Homo sapiens: one gene and its partners. The protein of the gene in region 2 purifies or fractionates together with the protein of the main gene of each other region. This does not show direct contact. Each region holds a gene or a part of one and is shown on either strand. Other genes may lie near its edges.

Region 1 (4,984 bases), on a different chromosome or scaffold from region 2:
TGAGACCCATAGTTGGGAGCCTTAGCTGGGAGGATTGCTTGAGCCTGGGAGGTTGAGCCCTCTTTGAGCCATGATCTCATCCCTGTACTCCAGCCTGGGCAACAGAGCAAAACCCCTGTCTCAAAAAGTAAATAAATAAAACTAAATAAACACCAACTCCTTGACCTTCATCTTTGAATTTCTCTTTCCTACAGATGCCCCACCTGGATGGGTTCAGGCTTGGGGACATTTACAAGCTGTGTGACCCTGGGGGTATTTGTTCCTTCCCTAAGTCTCGCTTTACTTATTTTAAAAATCAGGACAGCAATCCTAGTGTCATGGAGCTGCGGTGAGGCTCGATGTGCTGCTGTAGAGCAGGTGTCCATGGATAGCGCTGTCCCTGTGCCCCCGGGTGGCATTCTCAGTCCTTGCCTGGTACAGGGTAAGAGGAGATCATGGAAGGAAATGAGTAGCCCCTTCATCCCTCAACAGCACCCCAAAGAATCCACTCCTCGAAAAAGTTCAAAGAAACACTAGCAATTTATTGATTTTCTCTATTTCCAAAAAAAGCAAATACATTAGTGTATCACACAAGGAAACTGGGCCTGGCCGGCACAAGGTTCCTCTACAAACATGAAGCAAGGGGAAGGTGGGCTACAGGGAAGCTCCAAGATCCCTCACAGCAGCCCCCGGCTTCCCTTCCCTGCCCACCCCAGCCGCAGTCTTGGTCCTGCCAGCCAGTTCAGCCAGATTCCAAGGTGGACATGCAGACAGCAACACTGCCTCTTGGGTCCCCAGGAGGAGTGTGGAGTCAGGGCTGCTAGTGTGGTCCCCACTGCAGAGGTGGCTGGTGGCCAATGACTGGATTTGTCATTGGCCGCTAGCACAGGAGATCCCAGGGCAGAGTCTGTGTCCTTCCTCATTTGGCCCCAAATTGGAACTCCTTATTTTGGGCATTGGCCCTGGTAGTGTGAGGCCAATGTGGACTTAAAATCCTGAGACGTGTGTCGGCTACATGAAGCCTGGCAAGCTCCTTGTTCTCTTTCTCTAGGAAAAGCCCCTCTCAGTTTTGCCCCTCTCAAAGTGACAGGCCTGGGTCAGAGGCCCGGGTGACCTGAGCTGGCCTGAGAGGGAATGGGCAGTGTCACCAAAGTCAGCCCTGCCCTAATAGTCTGCCTCAGCCCCTGAGGTCTGGAAGGCTGCCTGGTTCCCAGGGCAGGGGCTGGGCCCATGGGGCTCTTCATTCTTTGAAGGTGGGAGGAACATGAGGCGAGGGGATGCAGGAGGCCAGGGTAGTGCTAAGGGGAAGGGGCATCCGCCTGGGCTGGTAAGGTTCACATGCAGCGGTGCATTTCCCCTCCCGCCCTGACCGGACTGCACAGCCCCCAGCCGGGGGAGCCCTAAAGCCAAGGACTTGTGTCTCCACTTTCCTCCAGAAAACATAAGCCGCATGAGGACAGGGATGTGGTCTGTGTTCTTCCCTGATGTAGTCTAAGTGCTTAGGACACTGCCCCGCACAGATTGGTATGCCATACGTATTTTTTAGGAGAAGAATTCCTCTGGGTTCTGATGACAACAAAGGAGGCCCCTGAAACCTATGCCCAGGACAGTCCAGGGATCCAGGCTCCCACGTGGGTCCCTGAGAGGGAGAGGTGAGCCAGGAGTGGGCCTCCCAGTGTGAACAGAAGCAAGGGAGGGTATGACAGACCCACAGCACCACAGCACAGCTGGCTAACAGCCGGGGACACCTCTCGGAGGACAGCGTCCTCACATGTCTGGCGTCCCCCATCTCAGTTATCATACTGAGTCCACATCAGTGTTTTCCAGCCTGAATGCTGGGGCAAGAGGTGGGTTTGGACTCGGGGGTGGTGCAGAAGAGGAAGACTTGGGAGGAGGCTGAGAAGGGGTGAGGAGGAGGAGCATCTTATATTCTTCTAGAGAAGGGCACAGACCAGGAAGTTAATTCCTCTCTAACACCAGCAATGCTAGCATGGAGGTAGAAGCTGGAAGGAGGAAGGCTTGGGAGCGCTGGGCTCTGCTCTGTCTTAGTGTACACCAAGGGATGTCCACACAGGTTTTCTCATAAGGCCCTCGGGAGCCCTCCTGCTGCTGCTGGTCTGAAGTGCACAGAGTCTGGGGGCTCGACGTGGCTGATACCCCTAATAGCCCTGTTTATCACATCCCCTGTGGGTTTCACAGAGTGGAGACAAGACAGCTGGGGTCAGGGGAAGTGGGGCATGGCCCCTGGCTGAGATGTGAGCTTGCCGGTACCGGTACCCTGATATGGCACTTTCCTTTCCTAGTCTACCCAAACTCCCCCCGTCCAAGTCTCCTGGGACCCCAAACACTCCCTCAATTGACTCACAGCAGGCTTGGTGGAAACATCTTCCTGGTTAATTTCTATACCCCAACTCCATCCCACTAGAAGCCGGAATAGGTATATGCCCAGCCCCACTTGTTCCCCTCTCCACTGGGAATATGAAGACCAGCCATTCCCAGAACAGCTCTTGGGAAAGAGCTGCAATAAAATAGCTTTTCTTAAAAAAATCATTTTTTACCTTCTTTCTCCTGCAACAAGTAGATTACAAGACCTCTGAATGCAGGGCCTTTGCAGGCTGAGCCTGCTCTGATGGGCACACAGCCCAAGAGGGTGGAAGGCACCATCTTTCAGCTCCTACTCCTCTGAGCAGGCCTCATTTGGCAAAGTATGCGAGAGTGTCCTGCTGTCCTCTGGAACCCCACACCTACCCAACCTCAGTCCTTGTGGCGCTGCTGGAGGGGTGACATTACAGACACCCCAGATTCTCCCATGAGATACACCAGACCTCCCTTCCTGGAAAGCAGCCTTGTAAGTGGGGAGGCTGGCCCAGCCCCAGTTACTCCTGCACCCCTGGAGACCACTGGTAGGAAGCCTGCAGGACTCCTCTGAGGGCCTGACTGCAGTGATGGCCCCCTTGCCCTGGCACCACACATTTCAGGAATTATGAGCAGCTCACCAAAAAGCACATGTTGTCCTTGCCTATGAGTAAGAAACACAGGAGAGTCCTTTTCACCACCTTATGAGCTGCAACAAAATAGCTTACCTAGCTTTTTGCAGTTTGTGGTTATGCTTTAAGACACTCACACACACACACATGCACGCGCACATGCATGCACACACTTACATTATACACATATATATACCATTTCTCAGAGGAAGAAATATTGACATCACATATAAGCCCCTTTAACTCAAGAAAGCCCCCACCGCCCCAACCTCCCTAACCCCCATTGCCTGCCAGTTTCCCCAAGGAAAAAAAAAATCTAAAAATCTTTCCACTATCCACAGTTTTTAGGTTTCTTCTCAGTTTCTTGTGAACTTTCCCAAATACTGCATAGGATGGACAGAAAACCCCATCCAGCGAGGCCTGAGGGCTTCTCAGCTGGGTCATATCTTCCTGGAAAAGGAGAAAGTCCTCCAGTTAGTGTTTACAGTGAGATGTTTCCACACCACAAGCCCAGCCTGTACTGCCACCCTCTTCTCACATCGGCCCTCAAGTGTGCCCTGGCCTGAGACTGGATTCAAGGCTGCCCTAGACACATTTATAGATTGCCCTGTGGATTCAGAAGCTTGTCAGCTTTGTCTGCCACCCTGCCACAGTGTCCCCTGCCCACCGTCTTCCTCACTAAGAAAGAAGGTGGTGTTCATTAAGGATTTGCCAAACCGAATCTCTTTCCCCTTTTCTGCCTTCAAGTTGTTGCAGCTTGTTTACTAGGAGAGGATATCTGAAGTCTTATTTAACCTTCATCCAGACCAAAGTTACAGTCCTCTCTCCCCACCAGGGATTGGGGTGGGGGGTGCTGGCAGACAGCCTGGTTAAGAGGTCCCCCTTAGCTCAGGAGACCCTGTCTTGATCCCAGGCTATTTGCAGATGGCTCCATGCTGGGCTGCCCCTGAGGCCCCTCTCTAGGGGTGATGACATCTGGCTGGAGTATCTCTATTTGTGATTCTCAGTTTACCCGCATCAGAAACACTTTAGACGCTTGTTTAAAAATAGACTTTCCTGGATCCCACTCCAGGGCTATTGAGTCAGAATAGCTGGGGCTGGGCCAAGTGTGTGCATTTTAGCAAGCAACCCATATAATTCCAATGAACACTGAGGTTGGCAAGCCTTCATCATAGGATTGGTTCTGAGTTTTGGGGGCCTAGAATCATCAGCTGGAAATAAACTTGTCCACACTGGGCATGTGCAGAGAGTGGAAAGTGAATTATAAAAGGATAAAAAAGTGAGCTGTGTATGGCCAAGCCCAGAATGACATATTCTAGAACTCCAGTTATCCATATTGTAGAACTCACTGTAGTCCATGTGAAGGGCACCACCTGTGTTGTTCAGTGTACAACCCACACATTTGTACCTAGCAGTCCTGCCCAGACCCTCTGACCCCTCTGAAACTCCCAGGACATTATACACCCCTAACGTCCTGAGGGTGGGACAAACTACGCCCCCAGCCAAGCAGTCTACACAACTGCTTGTGTTGTCCAGAGCCAGGCAAAAGGATGCTTCTGTGTCCCTGGGAGCACAGGCCTAGCCCTTGTCTCTGAGACTGGCTGAGGCTGTTGCAGTGGTCCCAGAGGCATCCCTGAGGGTGGGGTGATTCTTACCTGCAAGCCTAACTTGCTTGGACAGTCTCTTCTTAGAATCGGGAGGTGAAGTTCCTGAGGCTGTTGGCCCCAGCTAAGGTTCCCAGCATGTTCCTATCGAAACCTTGCTGCAAAGGGAGAAACAGCAACCAAATGACACAAAACTGTGTGGGGCTTGCTGTGGGGTCAGACACTGTCCACTGCCCTCCCAGAGCAACCTCGGCTCACACAGCCTCTCTCTTATCACTAAGTACATGTGTCAGGGCGAAAACTGGCCTCAGTAACTGTGTAACAAAACATAATAACTCTCCATGAGTCGGTGCAATGTGTTTGAACTTCCACTGACACATGTGAATTTCCTACTTGCATTTGCAGAAACCTGAG
Region 2 (8,418 bases):
CCTAATTCCTGTGAAAGTGGGGGCACACAACCACAGGAAACAGAAAGGGAAATAACCCTCTAACAGGGAAGATATAAGGAAACAGTTTGTTTAAGGAAGTAGGCTGTTTCACAGAAATCCAGAGAGGAAAAGTCAGACTTCATAGAACGCTGTGAAACGGCATGTCTCTCAGGAACAGGTGGGAAGGGAAGGTTTTGTATTCTGCCCCGAGGGAGGCAGGGCGCCGCCAACTTCCAAAAGTGTGTGAAATACACCAACAAGCCACAGACTGACAGTAGACCTGAACTCTTCTCCAGTAAAACAAACCTGAGCCGTACAGAGAATTAAAAAGCTTTCTTTACATGCCACCTATGGAGGAAAAGGGCCCAGTATTAAGGTCTTCCTCAAAGTGAAATATTTTGGTGTCATGGGTGAGGGGGCAGCAGTACAGGCTGTGTAAAATAGTGCCTGGGAATATTCAGGGGGCAGTGATGGCTGAGGGAACTCTGCATCTCATCATTAGGAAGAAAAAGAGGCAGCCACCGTGGGAGGAAGAAGCAGTACACAGGAATTGGACAGAAGCCAACCGAGCACTGTCACCAAGAGCAGCAGGGAATGCCAAGGAGGGAAGTGTGAGGTCAAGCACAGCCACGCAGAGAAGGAAGGGAGGGCTGGGAAAGTGCTCCACAGGCCTGGAGAAGAGTCCCTGAGCTGTAGAGACAGTGTCAGAGGATGGTGGGGTCAGTGGCAGGAAGCAGGGAAGCAAGTGCTGCCTTGACGAGACTTCCTGCTGCCCGGCTCCCCTAGGGCTCTTGGACGTGACATATGCAGGTGGGAGCACACCTACCCCCCAGATAAACTCGCCCCGACAAGGACTGCCTGGTTCATGGCTCAGTTCTTCGCAAGCTACCTAAAGGCTTGACATTATCAAGTGTTCAATACATGACCATGAAGTCTTTGAACACTTTGCAGTTTCGTTAAAATAAGAATTTAAATTCAAGAAGCAGAAAGCTGAGAGATTGACTTGTAGCATACTTAATTCCTTACTAATGTCACTAAGAAGACTGGTGAAATTTGTACTGAAATAGCAGCACAAAACCTAGAGTTCCTTGTTCAAGGAAAGGAAAAATGTGCTAGATAGCTATGAAAGCAGCCATTTCACACGAAGCTTATAACATGTACCAGCTTCATAACAACTTCAGCGTTTGGCAGGAATGTTATCACTGGCAGAACACAGGAACAGAGCAGACTTTGTCTGTGATAGTCAACCTGCATGTGGACCTCCTTGATGTCTGGAGCTTTGTTGTGAGACCTCAGGCTGCTTTCCTCAGGACCAAGGCCCCTAACGATTCTAGCTGACTAACAAATGCCTGGGTTAAGGTTTCACCACTGACTACAAGTACCTGATTTTTAAAAATTTTTGTGCACATTGATTCGGTTCTTTCCTTGGTAAAATGTAGTTACTAATAAAGACAGAATTATGACATCCTGGACCTGGTTTAAATTAAGGAACCCTGAGAGGAAGCCGAAGTCCAGCAAGAGCACAATTAGCAAATATGTTAGGACCTGGCCTCTGGCTCTTTTGCCCGGACAGGGTTTTAGAGAGGGGCAGGGAAGAAAAGGTGTTTTCCCTTCAACAAGAATTACAGATTGTTTTCTTCCAGTTTAGTTTGGTAACAGGTAGATTTCACAGAATGACAGTAGTCCAGCCTGGGAGCAGGTAGATTTCACAGAATGACAGTAGTTCAGCCTGGGAGCAGGTAGATTTCACAGAATGACAGTAGTTCAGCCTGGAAGCAGGTAGATTTCAAAGAACTGCAGCAACAGCTTGTCCATAACAGGTAGAGTCATTCACTCCTGGGATGAGCCAAGCTGGAAGGAATGTGTCCTAGGAGACTCAAGGTTTCCCAATGTTTCATTTGTCAACAGCTCATAAGCAAGTCACTTCCACTTCACACGACCTCACAGAGACCCCACACAGATGCATTTTGGATTTTGGTGAGCTGTTATAATAGTCAGAGGCAGGGACAGGCTCAGCCTGAATCCTGCTCAGAGGCCAACCAGGATTGGTTAGTGCGAGTCAGCCCACACCTCCTTCCCCCATGCTCCGGAGGAACAGTGGGTGTGTTGTGAATTCACTGGAAAAGTGGTTGGAAGGACGCATTCCAAACTGCTAAGACCTCCCCTCCTGGAAGTGGGACTGTGGTGTGGATGGTTCTGGAAGAACGCAAAAGATACAGGGCCCTGACCTTTAGGCCTAAGCGTGTTAATGACCATACACGAAGCAGGTGTTTCTCAGCGTCCCCCTGCCACCGCCCCGACTTGTACTGTGGGCTTATTTTTAAAGAGAAAGATGCTTCTAACCTGCAGTGTCTACAACAGCTCCCATTTAAGAACCCGGGATTGGAAGCTCATAGATTGCGTTTCGTAGCCGGACCGCTCCCTTTCACACATGTAGTCTCTCTGCCCGCCACACGTAGCACACACAGTGGGACCCGGCGCCGCTGAACGCCTGCACCTTCAAGCCCGCAAATGGTTCTCTATCCTTTTCCAGGTACTTGATCTTCAGAGAAACACGATCTCCCTCTTAGACCTTACTTTACAGTTGCTGCCACGCAATGACTTAGGATTTTACCAAGAATTGGCTTGGGTCTGTTGGGATATGAATATTAACCCAAGCAGGAAAATAGCCAATGCTGCCTGTTCGACCACGAGCGGGTGCGAAGCGCAGGGAAGACTCCTCAGGGTCCACCCGCCCCTTGTCCCCCCTGCTCCCCAGGCAGCGTCTCCGCCCTTGGACCCGGAGGCAAGGAGGAGCGCTTCTCCCAGCACCACCAACCTGGAGGGCTCCGCCGGACGGTTGGGGCCTCCCCTCGGAGACCAGAGCCCGCGCTTCCAGGAGGGGCCAAGCCTGGGCCCCTCCCGCGCCCAGCTCCCGTTGTGATTTCCAGGACCCCCAGAAGCCCGGTCCCCTCGCATCGCGGAAGCTTTGCTCGGGGTTCCTGGGACCGGACCCTCTTCTGCGCCCGCGACTGCAGCAGCGGCCAGAGATGCATGCAGCCACTCGCCAGCTGTCACCTGGTTTGCAGACGCCCGCGCACCTCGCAAGAGCCACACCTGGTACCTGTGCCCAGCTGCAAGAGGGTGAGGAGGCGCGGGACGGGATTGGGCTCTGCCCGCGGGCGCGGCTGGACGGCTTGGGCACCAGTGGGGCGGATGGGTGTGTGCGCGGGGTCGCGGAGCGCAAGAGAATGCGGGGAGCAGGGGGCTGAAGGGAGCGGGGTACGGTACTAGAGGCGCACAGGGGAATATGAGGCCACCGAACGCAAGGCGATTGGAAGCGCACGGCAATCAGGGGGACGCGGGGCACTCGCCTGATGAGGGCTCCTGCATAGTCCCGGGCGGCCTCCATGGCGCGGATCCCCTAGCGGGCCTGGAGGTCTGTCTGCCTGCACAGCCTCTTAAAGTGCGGCGGCCCCGCCCCCGCCCGCCTGCCAGCCCCGCGAAGGCCTGACTGGCGCAGGGGAGGACGTTTTGGCACGAGCTCTCCACCGCCGAGGATCGCGACTTCGCGCTCTGGGAGCCCCCGGTCGTCCTGGCTCCCGCAGCCTGGAGCCGCGCGTCCTTCGCTGCCTTGGGCCGTACCGAGGACCTTGGAAGCCCAGATGCTCCCCGGGTCTCTTTTGGTCACTTGCCAGCCTGTTCGTTTTGCACTTCTGGGGGTCGGGGCAGTTGGGGTCATAACCAATCCTGGCAGCATCACTTTGGCCGCGGAAAGACGGGTATGTGGATTTTAAACCCAGGCCACGGGTGGGGCAGGTGAGGAGACGGATGTGAGCGCCACTTGCCTCCAGCTCTGGAGTCCCCCAGAGCCCAGCCCCAGGCTCAGCGAGCCGCTGGTTCCCTGCAGGGATGCGGAAGCTGCCGCAGACACCGGGACCTGCAGCCCTTCAGGTTCTCCGAGGCGCCTGGGCTTCCTGCCCGCTGCGCTGCTCTCAAGGCCATGTCATGAGCATTTGGGGACAGTGAGAAGGGCATGCAGAACGGGAGGGGAAAGGAGCCTTTGGACTGCATGAATTGCCTTTTAGCTGTAGTAAGGGACCCTCGCAGAGTGAGGAGGCAAAGAGTGAACCCCGCTGGGGCTGGGGGACTTCCGTCCACACCCTGCTCTCATGGTTGTTCCCATCGGAAGACGCAATTAGGGCCTCTGAGACCTCCGAGGAAGGCGGGCAGTTACAAGGGGTTCCCAGAACCCCTCACTACAGGACTGAAGAGGTGGGCTCAGTGTTGAGGGGTGGGACTCGGGCAGTAAGAGGTGTAACTTTCTGGGATGGAGGCTTGCTAGGATATCCTCTCGTGCCCAACTGCTGACTGCCGCCTGGAAACAGCGTTTCGGGAGCTGCAGCGGGACCCTCGCCGGCTCCTCCTGAGCCCACCTGGTTTGAGCAGACTGACCTGATCTCTTAAGACCTGACCCTATGCCCGCCCTCTTCCTCCGCTGGCTCTCAGAAAGGGTCACCGTGGTCAACAAGCCTTGTGACTTGCAGGACTGTTGAAGCCAAAGGCAATTGCCTTCCAGAGTCAAGGACTCCGCCTGCTGGGAACACCCAGCTCCAGGCTCACAGGGGGCAGCTTCCCCCAGAGGCACTGAGCGGACACAGCTTTAGGAGGTCATTCACTGCCCCTCCCACTCACAGCCCCAATGTGATGGATGAGAAAATGGGTCCAATCAATTCAGGTCAACTTACCTCTAACCTTTTTATTGTGAAAAAGTTCAAATATAGAGATACATAGAAAGAACAGGGCTGAGGGTACTGGCTTACATCTGTAATCCCAGTACTTTGGGAGGCCAAAACAGGAGGATGGCTTGAAGCCAGGAATTTGAGACCAGCCTGGGTAACACTGTGAGACTACTATCTCTACACAAAAATAACGATAATTAGCCAAGCATGACGGCGAGCACCTGTAGTGCTAGCTACTCAGGAGGCTGAGGAGGGAGGATCACCTGAGCCCAGGAGTTTGAGGTTGCAGTGAGCTGTGATCATGTCACTGCACTCCAATATGGGCAACAGAGTGAGACTTTCTCTCTAAAGAAAGAAAAAAATCTGTTTGTGTGTATATATCTATCTATCTATATATAAGATAGATAGATAGATAGATAGATAGATAGATAGATAGATAGATAAGAGAGAACAGTACAATGAGCACACTTACACCCAGCCCCTGGATTCAACCACTGTTAACATTTTGACATATTTCTTTGTTCTTTATATTTGAATTTGAACCCTTCCAAATTAAATCCTTTAGCTTGCATCTCTGGAGAAACAAGGACATGATCTCATACATAACCATAGTGACATTATCACTTCTAACAAAATAAAAATAAAGACCTGGGCACTGAGTGTGGACATGGGGGTGGGGTGGGGACTAGCAAACATTTCCAGGCCATGGCGATGGCAGAAGGGACCCAGCAGGAGATCACCCTGGGGTTTTGAGCTTGGGAGACTGGAGAGATGAGGAATCCTGGACGGGAGCAAGTCTGTGGTGGAAGCGGAGATGGTGGTGAGACCAGGCCCTGGGGACCCCTTGGTCACGGAGGCAGCATAGCCCTGGTGTGCATTGGTTCTCATGCAGATCTTCAGGCTGGGAGTAAAAGTCGGTCACTGCCCTGCTGCTGAGTGGGAATCCTGGAGTGCTGCGCTAGGAGGGTGGTGGGGAGAGGTGGGAGAGGGCAGAGGGCAGACTGAGCTCCAGGGGACTTGGCTGCAAACCCAACAGATGATGGAGAAGACAACAGTGCGAGTCATGCCCAGCCTTCCAGCATATTCTCGTCTCCAGCACACAAATTCATTCCACTCTCACTCGACAGGTTTCATTCATCCATGTTCAACAACTACTCTGTGCCCGGGCAACCAGGATTGGGAACCCAGCTTTTTAGTTCAATTCACCAAATGTTTGTTGTCACAGAGCCTGTGCAGCTGTGAACAGTGGGCTCCACCTGACACCCACACCCTCAGGGAGGGACCTCAGCATTGCCTTCCCTCGGCTCCCAGCAGTATCTGTGGGGTGATGCCACAGTGGGCTCTGCTCTTTCTCCAAAGTATGGATGCCTCCCCACTCCCCGAGTCTCAGCATGTGCTGGGCACAGCCCATGCTCTGGAGTGCAGAGACCTAGGTTCCTAGCCTGGTTTTGCCTCCTCTAGCTGGGTGACCTTGGGCCAGTCACATAACTACCCCAAGCCTCAGATCTTCATCTGTCACAGGGCAGCGGCCTGTCTGTCTCACAGGGTGTGTGAGACTCAAATGCCATGAGGGAAGGGCCGGCCTGGTCAGCTCCAGCAGCGTGAGTGGGACTGACCACGACAGCAATGAACGGCTCCACTCCCTACTCCTAGCCAAGAGCGCGTGCCTGAAACAGAAATTGATTCCCACTTACCGCAATACGTTATAAACATCGGTGCTTAGGGTTCAAAGAAACTCCAGTTTCTAATCCAATTTCTGTTTTTGTTTTTTTTTGGTGGAGGAAACAATCATCCCTGAACTTTGGCCTTGCTACTTTCAAATTCTGTCACTGTGGGAACTTTCCTTTTTGAGCTTCAGTTTCTTTATTCCTACTGATCCCTGATGACATGCACTTTTTACCAAGTTTCAGTGGGGTGCAGTGAGAGTCGAGTGAGGTAATGCTTTTGAAATACATTGTGAACCATCAAGCACTGGAAGAGGACTAATCCAAACACCGTTAAACACATAGCCAGGGCATCTTCAGCAGAATGGTCAGTAAGGCAAATAATTTATTTCAATTTGCTCTGCTATTTGCCAAAGCCAAGTGTCCTCCTATTTCCGTATAGCTTCCAGCCTCCCTGTTTGAAAAAACTTTCTATAGTTATTTATACTAAGGTGTAAATGATTGCTGTCCCACTCAGCAAGCATTTTCTGAGCATCTCACTGGTTAGCTCTCCACCAGGTCCATTCCCCCGCCCTCTCTGTCCAGCCCTGTGCTCAGGAGGCTGCCCCACGGGCTGCTCCTTGCCCTTGGGCTACCAGTTGGTTCATGCTGGGCTTTAAAAAATTAAGAACAATTGTACTGCAGAATAATGTGCATCTGCGAAAATGCACAGATCTTTGTGTGAATGTTTATGTTCATAAACTGCTTGGATCAAGACAGAATATTTGCAGTGCCCATTAGGCTCCCTTTGCCCCTTCAAGGCCGTACCACCCACCCCACACTGGAGATCACACTGTTTATTTTATTTTATTTTATTATTATTATACTTTAAGTTTTAGGGTACCTGTGCACAATGTGCAGGTTAGTTACATATGTATACATGTGCCATGCTGGTGTGCTGCACCCATTAACTCGTCATTTAGCATTAGGTATATCTCCTAATGCTATCCCTCCCCCCTCCCCCCACCCCACCACAGTCCCCAGAGTGTGATGTTCCCCTTCCTGTGTCCATGTGTTCTCATTGTTCAATTCCCACCTATGAGTGAGAACATGCGGTGTTTGGTTTTTGTCCTTGCGATAGTTTACTGAGAATGATGATTTCCAATTTCATCCATGTCCCTCCCTACAAAGGACATGAGCTCATCATTTTTTATGGCTTAGTATTCCATGGTGTATATGTGCCACATTTTCTTAATCCAGTCTATCATTGTTGGACATTTGGGTTGGTTCCAAGTCTTTGCTATTGTGAATTAGTGCTGCAATAAACATACGTGTACATGTGTCTTTATAGCAGCATGATTTATAATCCTTTGGGTATATCCCAGTAATGGGATGGCTGGGTCAAATGGTATTTCTAGTTCTAGATCCCTGAGGAATCACCACACTGACTTCCACAATGGTTGAACTAGTTTACAGTCCCACCAACAGTGTAAAAGTGTTCCTATTTCTCCACATCCTCTCCAGCACCTGTTGTTTCCTGACTTTTTAATGATTGCCATTCTAACTGGTGTGAGATGGTATCTCATTGGGAGATCACACTGTTTTGCCTTCCATTACAACAGGTTCATTTTGCGTATTCTTGAACTTTGTATAAATAGAATCACGCAGGGTGTTCTCATTTGTGCCTGGTTTTGTTCACTCTTCATTGTGCCTGTGAAATTATTCATTTTATTATGTATGTTATTTGTTTGCTCATTTTTGCTGCCAAGGAAAACTGCATTGTGTGATATTTATGTTCCATTCCACAGCCCATGGCTATCTGGCCGGTAAGGATCCACAAGGCTGCAAGGCACTTTTGTATGTTTCCTGGTTGCACATGTGTGTTGCTTTCTCTTGGATGGAGGGGCCATGGAGACGTGGACACATCTGAATGGAGTGGCAGAGGGACAGATGACCATGGGTACAAACTTCATCTCCCAGGAACAGGTGTGGAAGGTGGGATTTGAAGCCTGACCAGGAGGTCTGCCTGGGCATCTGCACTTCCGGCAGTTCAG
Region 3 (7,000 bases), on a different chromosome or scaffold from region 2:
AGAAGCCACTTCTATGAGCTGTAAGTTTTCCCTGGCCCCCTGCGAGGTTTCATGATAGGAAAGATAAGGGCATCTTTGTATCTGATGGAAATGATTCAGAAGAGAGAAAAACATATGCTGATGTAGGAAAGTGAGGAGAGGATTTCTAGGGTGATGTTCCTGAGTAGCAGGGGGCCGTAGGTCCAGTGCGTAAATGAGGAGATCGGCTTTAGTTTGTGCCAACGTGGGAAGGCACTAAGTGCAGCTGTGCTGACAGGTGAGTGCATATACCAATATGTACGGAAATGTGTGGGGGGCACCCAGGCTGGGAGTGGACCCTCGACACTTCTGAACAGGACAATGGCTATTTCAAAGCCACCAGCAGTTTTCTGCTCCTAAAGGTGGACCCTGGGAAACAGAGCTTTTCCTCTGGGGAAATCAGAGCAGCACCTGGCCTCAAATTATGCAAATCCAAAGCAGGTGTCTGCCTCCTGCACAGAGGCCAGGTGGAAGTCATCCGAAGCCTAAATTCTGACATGTTCTACACACATGTAAGTTGGTGTGTGTCTGTTGACTTGGTTACTTCTTTTAGGGAAAAGGTGATTTTTCTGCTCAGTGTCTTCTAGGCCCTCCAGTCTGGAGAGGACTGCAGAAAGAATGCATAGGGATAGCCCGTCCACCTCTGCTCTCCCATAGCGGGCCACTGAGCTCTCTGGACTAGGCTTCCCACCTGTAGATCAAAGCAACTTGACCACTTATCTCCCAGAAATAATGAGCTCAGAAGGTAGGAATGTTTGTTCCTATCATGTTCTAATGAAATGTAATTCCCTGGGGACGGTGAGCAAGCCCCCTGTCCTGCAAGAGGATTTGGAGTTTCTTCTCGGGAAGGTGGACAATACCCTGTCTGTCATTCCAAGGCCAGAAGTGACTGGGTAGGCAAGACATCCCTGGGGTGAGAGGAACCTTCCTTTCTATGGCCCTCCTGGTGGGGAGGCCTGGCCTCAAGTCAAGGAGATGCGGAAAGCAGTCCCAGAGGGATGGGGGAGGCAGACCAGGCACTAGAAAAATGGAAGGAGGTGCCCTGGAAGAGATGCTGAGAGCAGCCTACACTTGGACTTCACAAGACGCCACTGAGAGCAGCCTGCACTTTACACCTGGACTCCACAAGACACCACTGAGAGCAGCCTACACTCTACACTTGGACTTCACGAGACGCCACTGAGAGCAGCTTACACTTGGACTTCACAAGACGCCGCTTCTGTGCGCTGTAAGTTATCCTGGGTCCCTGTGAGGAGCTTTGGTTCTGTTATTCCCAAACCTCCAGGAAGTCTGGCACTAGCCTACAGAAAATCTCAAAGGTTCTATTTCACTCTTGTGTAAAGGTGCAAAAGGAGATGAAGCCTGAAGCCAGAGAGATGGTGGCAGTGCCCAGGGAACATCTGTGTGGTTGGTGGTGGCCTGATGGTGGTCACAGCACCAGGGGCTGCAGAGGGCCTCAGTGAGGGGAATGTGAAGCCCCCAGTGTAGCACCTGAGCTGTAGCCCCATGGAGAAATTGTCAGACATGGCTTGGAGATAGGGGTGGAGTGCACTCAGGACAGTGAGTTCCAGCAAATCAACTGCAGAGTCTCAAGCCACTGTAATTTGAGTCCTACGGGAAATGTCATATTCTGGAGTCCATGTCTCACAAAGCCAGACTTCTGGATGAAGTGGGGTGGAAGACCTGGCATCCCTCCCATTTCTTACCTTCTCTTCATGTTCTACACCCCCCAGTTCCCTAGGGAGATCTCTCAAGACATCTCTGTGAACTCTAAAAATCTGTAGAGTGCAGGCTGAAACACGTCAGTCCCTTTGGGGATGTCCCCATGTTGAGACAACATGGGGGAACCCGTGGGTGGTAACTGAACTGAACTGATGTGACTCCTTTCACACGGAACATGGCTTGGAGGCATTGCAGAATGCATCTCTGATATCTAGAGTGAGCTGCAGGCTTGAGAAAGGAAAATTCTGGTTCTGAATGCTTTCAATAAAGTCACATTTATGGAAGGGGGGAGCTAAGTGACAGGGCATTCCAAGAGCGCTGCCATCCCTCGAGATCTGCACAGCCTCACCCGCCCCTCCCACTGGGAACATCTTCTGCAGTGGAAGAGCAGCCACCCTAGGGCTTCAACCTGAGGGTAAGAGGGTCAGATTTGCAGGACACCTGTCATTCAATAAACCAGAAGTTCAAAAGTTCTGCTGAGAACCTTGGAGCTCTGCCTCTTTAGACAATGGGAAGGAAAGAGGAATTTGCATTTGGATATGTTTTCTGTGGGGCAATGCTGTGCTAAGGCACATTTAATTCTCTCAAGAGTACTGTGGTGTTGGCGATATTATGGCCACACACCATAGATGAGAAGACCAGGTCTCAGCTAAAGGTTGTAACCTGGACCCCTCCTTTTGTTTCAGTGGCCAGACTCTGCCAACCCTTCCACCTCCCTGGTTCCCAGTGGGAAGGGCAGGTGAGACTATGCAGATCTCAAGGGATGGCAACGCTCTTGGGATGCTCTGCTACTTGGCTCCTCCATCCCAGTACCATGACTTAATTGGAAGCATTCGGAATCAGAATTTCCCTTTCTTTTTTTTTTTTTTTTTTTTTTGAGATGGAGTCTCGCTCTGTCGCCCAGGCTGGAGTGCAGTGGCGGGATCTCGGCTCACTGCAAGCTCCGCCTCCCGGGTTCATGCCATTCTCCTGCCTCAGCCTCCCAAGTAGCTGGGACTACAGGCGCCCGCCACTACGCCCGGCTAATTTTTTGTATTTTTAGTAGAGACAGGGTTTCACCGTTTTAGCCGGGATGGTCTCGATCTCCTGACCTCGTGATCCGCCCGCCTCGGCCTCCCAAAGTGCTGGGATTACAGGCGTGAGCCACCGCGCCCGGCCAGAATTTCCCTTTCTTAAGTCTGCAGCTCACTCTAGATATAAGAGATGCATTCTGGAATGCCTCCAAGACAGTGTTCTGCATGAAAAGAGTTGCATCAGTTCAGTTACCACCCATGGGTTACTAAGCTCAGTCCTAGCATCATCTGTACCTCTCTTGGTACCGTCCTTGGTGCCTGACAGGACGTTAGGTGTGGCAGAGGTTCTTAGTAAATACCTTTATGGAGATGCATGGGGAATGATGACAGGGACAAGGTGGAAGAGGGAAAGAGAACAGAGAAGAGGACATCTGACACCTGTCCAAGTGGAAACTGCCCACTCTGCTACATCCCCTTCACTGCTCTGGCTACTAGAGGCCACTAGCCCAGCCACTTTCAAGGCACTATGTATGTCCACGCTGACACTAAGTCCCCAAGACTTAAACCCAACACCAACTCTTACCTTTTCCCCCAAAATCTATCAGTAAGCAAGTGCCTGGGAGGAATTCTGTAGGCTTAGCATTAATCTAATATCAGTTTATGTTTTAAAAAGAAAAATATTTACTCTCTTTTATTCTTCAACTATTATTTGTATAACTTACTTTGGATACTTCATGGGTTTTGTTGTGACACCACAGTTGACAACATCATTCTACTCACAACTCACAGCTCTCTTTTACAGCCCGTGTTTGTCCTTGCAGTTTCCTTTGCTCCTCACCCTTTCATACAGACTGCCACTCACCCTTGAAGACTTGGCTCAAATGCTATCTCCTCTATGAAGTCCTCCCTGACCACCGCCCTCCAGTAAGACTCCATCTACTGCGCCCTCACAGTCTTGATGAATCTCCCTCAAAGAGCCAGGCACTTCACTCTATTCCTATGATTTGTTCCCCAGTCTAATTCTCACCATGATATAAGTTTATTATAGAGCCCAGAAGAGGACTTGGCCATGAGGTAAGAGCTCAGACAGCAGAAATAAGAGGGAAGACAAGAGAAGGAAAAAGCTGCGAGGGCTAGGCACCCACTTTACCTGCGTGACAGTAATGTTTTCCATCTGGAGAAAGTGTCCACCTGCAATCCCTTCTCCAAGTGCTTCAGCTTGCCCTCATCAGGAAGGATGAAGATGGCTGTGATATTTTTCTGGTAGGGTATTTCCAGGATGGTGCAAGAGAGCTTATCGTCATAGCCAACTTGGTATATGCCACTACGGAACATCATGGGCACCTTGACTGAACTGTTTTTCTCCAGAAAGAAATCTTCCTCTTTAGTTACATTTGGATCAAACTCATGTTTCCACCTGGCTTAGATTGAAGAAAGACAAACAGACATGTTATCCCAAGGGAAAAAAGGTGACTAAATCCAACTAACCAGTAGTCTCTCTCCACACAGATTCAGGGTGAAAGGGGATATTCCGGGATATCAGGGAAGTCCTTGCCCTCATGCCATGTCCTGGAGATTTCTGATGATATGGGCTCAGGTGCAATTATTAGTTCCCAAAGAAGCCAGGACTAGACTGCCAAATTAAGAGGGGAAAAGAAGACTACCATAAGCTCAGGTTCCCCTAAGCCTGAGAAAGCCCACTGATTATGTCCTAACAGAGGGGACTGCATTACAATTAATGAGGGCTAATTGAGTCTGATGTGAGTAGACTCTTCTTTAGCCATCAATCTGCCTGTGGATTTTGAGAACCCTCAATTTTTTATATTTAGTACCATGTTCCTGACACTCCAGCAGTGATTTTGTCTGGACTGATGGGTGTTGGCCTCTGATTCTCACCTATTTTGGCCAACCTGTTTGTGTACATGTGTTCTGTGTGGTGTTGGGGGATAAAGTTGAAATTGGAAACATTCTTCCATCTTTTTTTTCTGTCTCTCTCCATCAGATCTGGGAAATATATAAAGTCTGATAAGGAGAATTTATATAATACATACATAAGGAGACCCACCAAGTGATCACCATCACCATAATCAACACAATCACCATCTCAGGTGTCTGCTTAAAGTGCTGGAAAGCACACAGTGCTAGGGCCAGGAGAAATGTGTTCCAGTCCTGACTGTCAATGATGGGCTTTGTAACTTGGAGTAAGTCAGTTAATCTCACTCTGATTTTTTTTTCTCATCTAAGTGATGGGAACAAAATGTCATTCCAACCTCTATAACCAATGTTGTGTTAGGATAATCACCAATAATGAAAATGATAGACTTCATAAAGCTCATTTCACATACATTTTCACTTTAAATCTCAATAACTGTATGAGTTATGTATCATGGTAACCATTTTACAGATAGGAAAAGTGAGGTTTTGAGAGATAAATCACATATGAATTCAAGGTCACAGAGTAAACAAGTGGCCAACCCAGGTTTTTAACCCAAGTCTAGTGGTCATCCTATTCTTTCCACACCAACATGCCAAAAGCCTTACCTCGAAAGAAAATATAATTTGCAAGAAGCATCACAGTGCCGGGGTCTATATTCTCGATCAGGTTGTTAATTTTCCCATGGGTTTTTTGACTGATAAAGTCATTGATCTGCTTCTGAGCCATTTCCAAATTCTGAAAGTTGGTAAGGATGGTTTCGGCACTGTAAAAGTTCTTGGCATCTTCCAAAAACTTACGCTGTGGCTGCAGCCTCTGGTCAATGAACAGCGTGTTCCCAATGCTCAGTTTGAGGTCCTGGGTCTTCTGGGTCAGCTCGTGGATGATGTAATGGAAGCCCTCATGAAGATCTTTTTCTGGCATCTTTCTGAAGTTGAACCCCTGCTTGATCTCGTCCAGGGTGCTGTCCTGGGCACCCAGGCACAGCATGGAGAAAGCTGTAGAGATGCTCAAGGGGGATAGGAAGATGTTCCTGCCAGGGTTGTAAAAGGCCAGCTTCTTGAGCAGCTTAAAGCCTAAGTCCATGTTCTGCCTTGCAAGCTCCTTGGCTGCCATCCTTTGCTTCCATCCTTGGACCTCGCTCAAAGCTTTATAATTCCTTGGTGAGAAGCTCGGCTTTAGAAGACCTTTCACCGTGAGGAGAACAGCCAGAAAAATGGCCAGGCCTAGTGTGGGGTTCATTTTCCTTGAAGAATATCCTGTTGAGTAGTAGACCTGAGGTCAGCAGAAAAAAAGAACATGATAACCCCATTGCCTACATGTTACCCAGAGGAAGACCAGATGAAAGAAGAAATACAGTGACTATTATGTGTTGTACATAGCAGTTTATGAGTGCTTTGACCCCTTTATAGCATTTAAACTTTATAATCACCCTGGGGACTAGAAATGACTTCTACACTTTGTAAATAGGAGGACTGAATGTAGAAGACAACTCTTGTTTTTGTACCCTCTTTATGGAAACAGTGTCTCAATTCCTTTGAGGAACAGCTCTCCTTCCCTCCATTGGACCACAGTGAGGATACCCCGTAGTGTAGGCATATGGCCCAGACCTACCATCATAATACTTCATTCCTTTGCCACACTGGCTGGTTAAAGATGAGAGTGTGGACCAAAATCAGACCTCTCAGTGTCTTTCTAAGGGAATGCAAAACCCCCTAAGCTTTGGGGCAGCTAGCTTTGTGAAGTAGCCCTGGAGCTGAATGTGGCCATGGTTTCCACATGTAGAAGGAGAGGAGAGTGATAGAGGGAGGTGGAAAGACAGAAATGGACTGACACATCTGATGACATCTTTGGAGACCCTGGACTAACCTTTAACTCAGTTTGCTACCCACTTCCATGTTTCCAAGTTATGAAAGCCAATAAATTTCCCTTTTAGAGTTGGCTGGTTTGAGGTAAATTTTTCCCCTTCAGCCAAAAGAATTATGACTAATTTACAGAGATCAAGCTCTTTGTTTAAGCTCATATGTTCTCTAGGTGGTGGATACTCATTCCAGGAGGACTTAGATCTCCAGGAAACCTTCTTCCCTACACCCTTCCCAGGGAGGGAAGAGGATGGCACCATGGGAGAGGAACAGCCAGGTCTGCCTGGCTCTGGACTGCTGCTCCTTTCATCCACCTCTCAGCTTTGACATCTTCCAACGGCCACTGTGAGCTTCTGGGAGACAAGACTTTTAGCTACGTTTTCCCTTAATCTCCAGCCCTAATTCTGCAGAGAGATGCTAAAAGCATGTTGGCCTAAAAAGCTTATTGATTT

What was found.
Region 1: the proteins of CIDEA (region 2) and PKP1 purify together in Homo sapiens (affinity purification with mass spectrometry; 3 studies listed by BioGRID and IntAct, with this or other methods). This does not show direct contact.
Region 3: the proteins of CIDEA (region 2) and SERPINA12 purify together in Homo sapiens (affinity purification with mass spectrometry; 3 studies listed by BioGRID and IntAct, with this or other methods). This does not show direct contact.

The regions. Positions count from the first base shown.
Region 1 is NC_000001.11:201,328,506-201,333,489, reverse strand, and holds the end of PKP1 (plakophilin-1), read right to left. Parts: intron 4,729-4,984; coding exon 4,654-4,728; 3' UTR 4,622-4,653; intron 3,417-4,621; 3' UTR 501-3,416; downstream 1-500. UniProt on the Homo sapiens protein: A component of desmosome cell-cell junctions which are required for positive regulation of cellular adhesion.
Region 2 is NC_000018.10:12,249,357-12,257,774, reverse strand, and holds the start of CIDEA (lipid transferase CIDEA), read right to left. Parts: upstream 3,415-8,418; 5' UTR 3,392-3,414; coding exon 3,354-3,391; exon of another isoform or gene 2,959-3,353; coding exon of another isoform or gene 2,819-2,958; intron 2,763-2,818; exon of another isoform or gene 2,344-2,762; intron 2,197-2,343; exon of another isoform or gene 319-2,196; intron 1-318. UniProt on the Homo sapiens protein: Lipid transferase that promotes unilocular lipid droplet formation by mediating lipid droplet fusion. Lipid droplet fusion promotes their enlargement, restricting lipolysis and favoring lipid storage.
Region 3 is NC_000014.9:94,492,470-94,499,469, forward strand, and holds part of SERPINA12 (serpin A12 precursor), read right to left. Parts: intron 5,962-7,000; 5' UTR 5,929-5,961; coding exon 5,295-5,928; intron 4,175-5,294; coding exon 3,904-4,174; intron 1-3,903. UniProt on the Homo sapiens protein: Adipokine that modulates insulin action by specifically inhibiting its target protease KLK7 in white adipose tissues.